Regions from separate parts of the Homo sapiens genome. Here region 2 is linked to region 1. The links come from fine-mapping of genetic effects on gene expression. A gene starts in region 1. The other region holds a variant in brackets. All regions are shown on one strand. Distances are from middle to middle.

Region 1 (5,384 bases):
TATGGGAAAGAAAACTGGAAAATATTGGAAAGTGTATGGGCTTTGTGAAGTTTTTGCTCAGATTGTCCCTACTGCCTTTTGGTTCTCACTCCACTTTAAAAAAGCTTAAATTGGAAATGATTCATTGTGAATGCTGTTCATTCAAGAAAGATCATCAAGAAGGATCACTTGACTCTTGTAAACGGACCTATACTCAAAAGGCTTTGGCACACTGTCAAGATATTAGTATACAAATGTGCATTTGTGTTTAAGTTAAAATGAGGTATGAAGGGTAAAATGCAAAATAAGTATATATTTTCTATAAGTTCCCTGCTATAAATTACTTTCAATGAACTGAAAACTACCTTTCTTTCCTTTTTTAAAAAAATTTTTTTGGTTTTGTTTTTTGAGACATGGGCTCCCTCTGTTACCCAGGCTACAGTACAGTGGCGTGATCCTAGCTCACTGCAGCCTCAAACTCCTGAGCTTACATGATCCTCCCACCTCAGCCTCCTGAGTACTTTGGTCTATGAGTGTACACCACCATACCCAGCTAACTTTTTTTTTTTTTAGAGATGGGGTCTCACTATGTTGCCCAGGCTGGTCTTGAACTGCTGGTCCCAAGGGATCCTCACCTTAGCCTCCCAGAGTGCTGGGATTACAGGTGTGAGCCACTGTCCCTGGCCTGAATAACTACCTTTCTAACTACATCAGATAAGAGACTTTCTGCTATAGTTCACATTGGGCTTTTGTGCACCCAACTGCAGATCACAACTGTATTGTGACTGTTTTCCCAAAGTAAGTTTGACATTCAGTTTGCTTTTATTTATTTCCTTCATTAATTCTATAAAAAATATTTATTAAGCCCCCATTGTACTCCAGGCACTGCACCAGCCACTGGAGGAGACTTGTGTGACTGAGGTAGATATAGTCTGTGGCCCTAGTAAATTTGCAGCTTGGGAAGAATACAGATAAGTAAAATGAAGCACCATGCTACAAGAGAACACAGAAGGAATACTGACTTGTATTTGTAGGATGCGAGGCGGCTTCTTTGTTCTTTTTTTGTTGTTCTTTTTGTTTTTGTGGGGTTTTCACAGTTAAAAAAAAATCTTCCTCACTCCTTGGTATGAAACCGAATGAGAATTATCTTTGACAAATGATTGGCTTGCAGCTTATCCCTTAATGAGCAGCTCCTGTATGAAAGCCAGTGTTATACACACAGACACAGACTCACACACCTTGGCACTGTTTCCCAGACTGCCTGTGGCAACCGTGCTTCCAGGAAGCCCAAGTTCTATGAATTAGATATGCACTTAATATCAAATTAAATATTAGAAAACTGTCATCACAGCCATTACCAGGCATGCTGCTGGGACCCCCAAAAGTTTTGATTGAACGCTGCGCATTATCCATTAAAAGGAAAAGTATGGAGGCTCCAGATGTTATTCTTCACCAAAGGGGAGTACACCTTCTTTTGTTAGGCAAGCTGAGAAGGGGATAATCAACTTTCACTGAGCTGAGTGAAATCTAGGCTCCTAAGGCCTCAGCCAAGACCCTGGTTTATTCACCAGGGCCCTTCCCCTTGTGAGTCCTGAACCGTAATTCTTGTTCCCTAAGCATGGTGACCCTGCCAAAAACTTCACTTTCTTTTCAGTCTTTCCACTTAGCCTTTTGCCCTGTTAATCTTTTAGCCTTTTGCTCTCTTAACCTCTTGAAGAGAAAACCAGGGTCAGTTTTCTGCCTCTCACCAGGATCTTGGCCTCGTATATTTTCAACTTTGTCTTTTGAACCCTCCAAGGCTATCTAGAGCTCTGCTGATTTCTCTGCTCCAGTGGCGGATTCTTACTCTACATCTAAACTCTGCAAATGTCCCCGAATAAAAGAAGTTGCAGATCAACAGATCAACAACTCACCCCTCTGTGATTCTACCCTCTTCAAACTGTGGCCTTGATAGTCACCTATGCATCAGCAGTTCTCTTATGTCTTTTAACCGAGTTTTAAATTTAATTTTATTTTATGTGGCCTTTCTAGTTATTTTTGGTGAGAGCATCAGTCTGCTGCCCGACAGCCTATTCAGAGGCAGAAGTCCTAAGCCTGTATTTGAAACCACAGGGCAGGAGCTGTGTTCAAGCATGTAGCTTTTCATAAGTCTAAAGGACTTTATCCAGTTTCCATCTGGGGGCTCTAAAAAGGTCTTCTCTGCTCAGAAAGTTAATGTTCCTCAAGATTTGACAAATGCGTGTCAAAATTCATCTTGTTCCTCCTTTTAACATCAAATGGTGAGATTTTCTTACAAATACATTAAAGCATAACATTTAGTGATTCCATGTGTTAAGCCATTATTTGTTAAATCAGCTTTATTTTAGTACGGCTTATAGACTCACTTGGAGTTGACCAGGATTGATTTTGGCAGGGAGGTACATCCTCTCCCTGCTTTCTGAAGGTGCCATTGTGTGTGGAAATGGAGAGATGGTCTCGGCTTTGGCGGTGCAGGCACCTGGAAAGATGCTCAGTTTCACTCTGAGAAGCTTCGGTCAGTGCTGGTCACCTGTGCATAAAGAGCCAGTGGACTCAACTGTGGGGAATATCAAGGTCCCAAATATCTGACTGTCCAGAAGCATCTTACTGTCCTTAGTGAATACGCAGGAATCAGTCTTTCTCTGAGGCCGTGGCAGGGCACAGATCAATCAGGGAGAATAGTTGGTCCCAGACCAGAGCCCACCTAGAACTGAGGATGTGTAAAGGGTGTCTGACTGGCTTACTCCTTGGCTTAAAGCCACTTTAATCTAGGACGTTGCGGAAGCCAGAGTGTATGTCGATTCCATTAAGGAAAGAAGAGAAATGCTTATGGAAACAGTACCACCTCCATATCCATTGGCCTCCCCTTCCCGACCTCCACCCTGCTGTACCCATCAGTCATCTGAAAGGAAGATCCCACAGAGTTGACAGACTCCTTTAGAGAGAAGATCGTCATATGCTCTCCGTAGGTTACCTGTCTATTTAGAAGCAAACCTCTCGTCACCCGCTGCGGAGCATCTCGATGTTAGAAACCACGCCACTATTTTTAGTGTGTGTCCTTGTGCTTCTGCACGATGAGTCAGGGTTCTCTTTTAAAAAATACTTGGCATTCCTCAGAAGAAAGATAAACACATTTAATGTTCTCAGTTGCTACTATTCTAATCGCAAAGTCAAGAGTTCCTTCTTTTCTTAGCTGCCTTCAGTGCCACAGAACTATCTGGGCCTCTTCCTCTACCCCTCCTTGTGTGATCGCTCCTTTCAAAAGCAACAGCCAAAGCAGATGCAAGGGAGATGCATTGGTGCTCATAAATTCAAGGAGCTGAAATGGCAACAGCTGTGGCAATTTCAGGATTTCAGCAGGTAATCAAGTAAGTGCAAAAGCGGGATTTGACAATTCTACAGGGGACTGGGACAGAGGGCAGCGAGAACTTGAGCTTCAAGGAGAATCTTCACTAGCTATCAACAAGAAATGTAAATGCTGTGACTTTACCCAGTTAAGCACAGCAGATTTTCCTGCTTTCAACTCTAATCCTTGAGCAGCAGGAGTACCCTTTCCCATCTCACAACATTTGACTTTCTCAGATATATTTATTCTATGTTATATACTGCAGTTCACCTATGTATTTTGGGGTTAATTTATCACTGGTTGAATAACATCGTTCAATAGACTTATGAAAAGATGGGCATTTTCAGTTGTGCCAATTTAGGTGAGGCTTATGGACAGTGTTTCTTCCAAAATGTTCCCAAGTCTAAAGGACCATGATTCTCAAATTCTCTGTAAAGTATAACTAGGTCTCTTTCTCACCTTGGAAGAACAGCAGCTAGAGGCCAGCATTCAAGGCATGGAACGGAGAAGGTATATGGTGCCTTGTTCTCTTTTGTTATTAGATGTAATTATGAAATATAAAACTAGGACAAAAGCAAGTTGTAAGTGTTAGCATAGTGGCTACGAGCACAGACTCAAGCCAGTCTGCCTAGGTTCAAATCCCAGCTCTGCCACTTGCGGGCTTTGTGACCTAGGACAAGTTTCTTTACTGTTTTACTGTCCCAGTTTCTGCATCTGTATAACATTGCTAGTAATACCCACTGCAAATGATTTTATGAGAATTAATTTACTCACTGTTTGGGAAGTACTTAGAATAATGCCTAGCAATAGTAAGCACTCAGTAAATGTCTTTTATATAGAGCATGTATCTATCTCTTCAATAACAAGCACCTGTGCAACAGTCAGAACACCACAAAATAGCACTATAAAGACAGTAAAAAATATCCCTTTGTTTTTTTTTAACATGTCTTTGTATTAATTAGAGCTCTGCCAGCTGCAAATTCAGAAATCCAATTTCTGAACTAGCCTAAGGGGACACAAAAGGAACTTATTGCCTCTTGGGATTGGGAAGTTCAGTGTGCCTCTGATTTCAGGAACAGCTGAATCCAAGAGCTCAGACTCTGTCCCCATCACTGCTGCTGTCTCTCTCCCTTTGTCTCTTGACTGTGCTCACATAATTATACCTGCAGTCTTTCACATGACAGGAAAGGTGACCACCACCAGCCCCTTGCTTATACCCAACTAATACCTATATATTAGTTGGTCTTACACTGCTATAAAGACATACCTGAGACTGGGTAATTTATAAAGAAAAGAGGTTTAATTAGCTCACGGTTCTGCAAGCTATACGGCTTCTGCTTATGGGGAGGCCTCAGGAAACTTATAATCATGGCAGGAGGGGAAGGGAAAGTAGGCATGGTCTTCACATGGCCAGAGCAGGAGGAAGGTGGAGGGGAAGTTGCTACCCACTTTCAAACAACCAGATCTCAGGAGAACTCTGTCATGAGATAGCACTAGGGGGATGGTACTAAACCATCAGAAACCACCCCCATGATCCAATCATCTCCCACCAGGCCCCACCTCCAACATCAGGGATTACAATTCAACATGAGATTTGAGTGGGGACACAGAGCCAAACCATATCACCCTCCTAGCCTAGCATCTCCTGCAGAAATGGTCTCCCCTGATGGGAAGAGCTGTGACTGGCTCAGCCTAGAAGCAGTCACTATGGATGGAGGGATATTGTTACCTAGCTGGACCAGGTGCCTACCTCTGTACAGCTTGGGGTGGGGGGTGGGGAGGTTGGAGTGAGGCAAGGTTGGCAACAGCAGTTCCAATCAAACCACACCACAGCTATGGAAATGGGTACCCATGGGAATGAGTGGTCCTGGTATTAGAGGAAAGTGGCACTAGGGGATGATGTTGTGCAGTCCAAAGCAATAGATGCCCATCTGAAGCTAGCTGGGAAAAGGCTTGAGTTCATCAGCAGGAGTGTACATTTCATAAGACATTTCATTTTTGAATGTCTCATTTCATATTTATCCCATTTCGTGGACAAATA
Region 2 (5,384 bases), 23 kb after region 1:
TAGATGCATCATCCAGATATTTCATCTTCACATGAAGGCATTCTGTGAGCATGTCTGTGTCCATTTGCCCTTTCTTTTTTTCTTTTTTTGAGACCGAGTCTTGCTCTGTCGTCCAGGCTGGAGTGCAGTGGAGTGATCTCCACCCACTGCAAGCTCCGCTTCCCAGGTTCACACCATTCTCCTGCCTCAGTCTCCCAATGGCTGGGATTACAGGCACCCACCCGGCTAATTTTTTGTATTTTTAGTAGAGACGGGGTTTCACCGTGTTAGCCAGGATTGTCTTGATCTCCTGACCTTGTGATCCGCCCATCTCGGCCTCCCCAAGTGCTGGGATTACAAGCATGAGCCACCGTGCCCGGCCCATTTGCCCTTTTTTATAAGGACACAAGTCATATTGAATTAAAGGCCACTCCACTATGACCTCGTCTTAACCAATTACATCTGCCCTGTTCCCAAATAAGGTCACATTCTGATGTATGGGGAGATAGGGTTGCAACATCTGAATCTTTGGGGGCCAGGGAGGTGTGGGGCAATAGAACTCCTAAAATCAGTTCACGAAGATGCTGTGATCTCAGTGTGGGTTTGGAGTGTGAGCCCCTTCTGCCTGATGTTCCAAAGCAACTCAGCGTGAGTGAGGCCTCTGCACCTCTCTCAGTTCACTCTTCTCCATCCCAAGGGAGGTGTGTGCCCCCTCACTTCCAGGAGTGTAATCAGGGATTCTCGTGCCCAGTGCCAGGTAGGGGGGAAGGGAAAAGAGACAGGGGTCTCCATCACCTCCTGTATAACCTCAACGCCTACTCAGCAGGAAGTGGGTAAAGAGTGGACAGAGGAGTTGAGGTGAAACAGAAGGTCGCCAGATGTGGGAACAGAGGAGGAGGTAGCTGACAGGTAGGACCAGAACCAGCCAGCTTTATCTGATTGTCTCGATGTCAATTTCACACTACTCTTTTCATGAGCAGGGTGGAGGATCCAACCCAGGCCAGGGTCAGGAGCATAGATGCTGAGTCTGAAGAGCGGGTGTGGGTGTCGGGAGGCAGGGGGGTTTGTAGGGCTGGCATGGAGCCCAGGACACATGTGGGAAGCACTGAACAGTTCAGCACAGCAGCTGTAGGCATTAGCCAGTTTAGTTAATCAGCAGTGCAAGCCCCCAAGGCTCAAGTCCTCTTTGTACAAAGATGACAGTAAACAGGAGTGGGCGCAGTGGGAAAAGAATAGACTTGAGAGTTAACCAGACCTAAATTTAAATTCTAATTCTGAGTCCACTTGGCTTTAGGCAAATCACCTTATCTTTCTGGCCCCAAGTTCCCACATCTTTTAAATATAAAATGGGAATAATAATAATAATAATACTTACCTTATAAGGTTGTTGTGAGGGCTAGATGTACTTATATGAAAGAGAGAGTCCTGGCAGGTGGTAGGTGATGAATAAATGGTAGCCAGTAATGGTGGTGAGAGAATCTTGTACTAACTAAATAGTATCACTCACACTATGTGCTTGAAGTCGAAACCAAGGCTTAAACTTCCAGGAGTGGTTCTTTAGTTGTGGGCTTAAAATGTACACACAGGGTCTCACATATTGTCCCTGGGTTAAAATTTTTGTAAAATAAGTGTCATTTTTCTCTCTATGGGACACAGATAGAAGTGGTCAGGATGTTACAGGGAAGTGTATTCTTTCCTATTATCAAAGGGGTGATAATGCCCAGTTATTGTCCTGGCAGTTGGACCTCTGCTCTGCTGTCCTTAAAAGTGAGTGGAGGCCAAGTGCAGTTTCTCACGCCTGTAATCCCAGCACTTTGGGAGACTGAGGTGAGTGGATCACTTGAGGTCAGGAGTTCGAGACCAGCCTGGCTAACATGGTGAAACCCCATCTCTACTAAAAATACAAAAATTAGCCAAGCGTGGTGGCACATGCCTGTAGTCCCAGCTACTTGGGAGACTGAGGCAGGAGAATCGCTTGAATCCGGGAGGTGGAGGTTGCAGTGAGCTAACATCACGCCACTGCACTCCAGCCTGGGTGACAGGGTGAGACTCCGTCTCAGAAAAAAAAAAAGAAGTGAGTGGCAAGAAAATATAGTAATAAGCACTGACATGGCGCTTACCACGTGCCAAATTCTATTCTTTATGTTTATGGATATTACCTTATTCAATCCCCACCATAACCCTATGGAGTGAACGTTATCCTCACTCCATAGGATGAGGATATTATTATCCTCTTTTTTAAACCACTTTTTATGTGCAATATCTACCTTTAAAAATATCTATTAGTAAACAGCTGAATTATAAAAAATCAATTTCACTCCAGCAAACCTCGAGTGCCCAA[G/A]GCCGACAACAAATGACTCAGCGAGTAAAATAAAGGTAGAACAAAGCAACAAGGACAAGTAAGACTTTAAGTGATTATTATTACCTCATTTTTACAGATGCTAAAGGTTAAGATGCAAGAACACGAGTGTCAAGTTCTGGTTCCAGACTACATGCTCGTGGCCACTACACTCTGCTGCTGCCTCATATTCTATATGCCTTGTACACTGTAACTCCACTGAAGTGCTGGTGGTGGTGGCGTGTGTGTGTGAGAGGGAGAGAGAGAACTGGGGCATCGGGAGGCCCCTAGCCCTCACACCTACCAGCCCAGCCACTGTGCAGAATGCAGGGATGAGTTGTTTCATTTCAGGTGTTCACTCTGCTTTTTGCAGAACATATTGTCCCTTGAAGGATATTAATACAGGAAATGAATAAAGAGTGGCTTCAAAACAAATTTGAGACCAGGACAGCTTCCATCTTATGTGTTTCAGATAAATAAGCCCTTACAGTAATCAACTCTTCAGGGCCAGACCTCTCTCCCTGGAATATGAAGTGCTCCAGCACACTGTAAACAACAGTGATGTGACTCATTTCCTGAACTGTGTCGTGGCCATCTGCTCAAATATCTGCCTTCCTTTTCCTGTATTCTAATGATACAGCAACTCTATGGACAATTATGTAGCCATTAAAAATGGCAATTTAAATTTTCAAAGTTAAAATGCATAACAATGTGGGGAAAATGCCTATAATACAATGTTAAGTGAAACAATTGCACACAAGAGGTGCATGTATGTAAAATGTGTATGCACGAGGCCAAGGCCTAGAAGGACATGGAAAAGGAAGCTTGTTTTCAAAAACTGGAGACTTCTTTTTTAAAGTTTCACATATACTTTTAAAATTAGAAATAAAGCAAGACGCTTCGTTGTGCAATTTCACTGCCATCAACTACAAACATAATGTTTACATACCGACCCAGTTTTTTTGGAGCTGGGAGGATCTCTAAGATTGATAAAAAATAGTTATTAAAATGGCAGATTTTTCTGGATATGGGAAAACTTATCATAAGAGAAGTATGTCGTTTCCTTATCCTGTTTGAAATTTTTTAATGGTTGGAGAACTTGTGAGGAAGGAGATTAAGAATGAAACAGTAATCTTTTCTTTAAAATGTTATCTCACACCAGATACAGAGAATAAATGAGCAGTTTCCAATCCTTTTTAGGAAGGAGGCAGGACATAAATAAACAAAATATGGACTACATGAAATATAACTTAAGCAATCTCCCTAGATACATTTTTCAATAAACCTAAAATCTATTAGGTATTTTTGTAGTTCTTCATTTCCTTTACTCACTTAAAGTCTTACTTGTCCTTGTTGCCTTGTTCTGCCTTTATTTTACTCACTGAGTCATCTGTTGTCAGCTTTGGGTACTTGAGGCTTGCTGGAGTGAAAAGAATTTTTTATAATTCAGCTCTGTTTACTAATACATCTTTTTTAAGGTAGATATTGCACGTAAAAAGTGTTTTTTTTTTTTTAAAATCAGCCAATGCCCTTGTGAAGCTACTTCATTTGCTCTGTTGGTCCAGGTCAGCTAAGTTTCCCACACATCTTTAGTATTGATGCATCAAAGGACTTAGTGAAATTAATCAACTGCATTTTAGAATGAAGGCTTCATTCCACAGGATGTGTGGGCCGTTAACAAAAGTGAATTTTTCCCAACTCAAAACGGTATAGAAAGGAAAATGTAAATGAAATGACTTGGAGTAAGTTCAGTATAAGGCTAATTTTTCTTAAGGGTAAGCTTGTGGTTTAGGTTAGAACTCATCAAGTTAATTGTCTTCTGATCCTTGAAAGTCAAATCCAGACATCTTCTTGATGATTCCTGTTACCAAAGTCTCTGGTACAAGTGATGTTTCCTGAGCCTTCTTAAAGACTCTGATGCTAAGGAGGTCCTTCGGGAACCCAGTGCTAATAACGTATGATACTGGAATAAAAAAGCAATGGAGTAAATGAACTTGCTGAGAAGGACCCCAGTGAACCATTGTTCCTGAATATAAAAACTAATTCCTGAAGATTGTGGCCAAAAAGTAGGTCCCAGTGGAAAAGAAGGAGAATCAGAGTTTGGAAATGTGATGAAATTTCCATTGGCATAGCAGAGAGTAGATCTTGTCACTAGTTGACATGTGCTGCTGCCAAGGTGTGGCCCTTGGGAGAGTACAGCTAATGGCCTCAGCGTCACCTGGAGGTCTGTTACAAATGCAGATAGACCACGAAAGGATTTTTGTCTCTTCGTTCACTTCCATCACCCTAGTGCCTTTAACAATGTCTGCACATAATTGCTGGACGAATGAATTTCTTGAGCCCAATCCCAAATCATTGAACTAAAATCTCTGGGGGCAGGTCCCAAGAATCTGTATTTTAACAGGATCCCCAGTTGGTCCTCAGGCATAGTTTAGTGTGAGAACCATTGCCCTCCTGTACATGGATACTGGCCAGTGTAGTACAGTGTTGATTCCCCTGAAAGCACCAAACTCTAGAAACCTGAAAATGAAGGAACAGCCGCACCTTGGTTTCTACTATGATTATGATGATGATTCTCTGGTATTGCATAAAACGTTTACACCCAATATATCCAGGGGTTAGGTTAGGCAGTTACACTTATTCCCATTTCACAGTAGAAAAACTTGGACATATGCAAGGTCAGATAATTAACAAAAAAAGAATCAAAACCTACCCCACTAGACAAAGTTTAGGAGATGATGTGCTAAGCCTGAACTGGACAACGTGACATAATTAGCAAAGAGTGAAGGACAGCACTCCACTTGGGTCTATTATTGTTATGACCAAGGTCATTTTAAAGTATCAGAGCCACTCTCCAGGCGAGTTATAGGAAGAGGCCACAAAGAACCCGAAGAGATGGCGTCTTTCAACCACCTCTGTTACTCTGCCAGTGATCTGAGAACAAAAGGCCCTCTTGGGCTAAAAAGAACAAGTTACGGAGTCAGAAGCGGGTATTAGGGAAGGGAAAGTGAGCCAATCCCTGGGGCTCACCAGGAACAATTAATTTGTTTAGTTCTAACTAACCCAT

Direction of the effects. Alleles are on the strand shown, and positions count from the first base shown. SD is a standard deviation of normalised expression in the study named.
For the expression in adrenal gland of the gene that starts at base 3,252 in region 1, A is the low allele of the variant in region 2 and G is the other (small effect, 0.29 SD a copy in GTEx).

Evidence for each region. PIP is the estimated chance that this variant, and not a neighbour inherited with it, causes the effect.
Region 2: its variant is the best candidate, but not a certain one, in a credible set for the expression of LINC02284 in adrenal gland (GTEx, PIP 0.79).

What each region holds. Positions count from the first base shown.
Region 1 is chr14:56,307,738-56,313,121 of GRCh38, forward strand. It overlaps LINC02284 (long intergenic non-protein coding RNA 2284), which reads left to right and starts at 3,252. Exons shown (of 7, transcript NR_187174.1): 1 at 3,252-3,357.
Region 2 is chr14:56,330,959-56,336,342 of GRCh38, forward strand. The region is part of intron 5 of LINC02284 (long intergenic non-protein coding RNA 2284); the gene reads left to right. Among named protein-coding and RNA genes, the nearest start is that of LINC02284, 23 kb to the left of the region's middle. The variant G/A (reference allele first, on the strand shown) is at 2,321.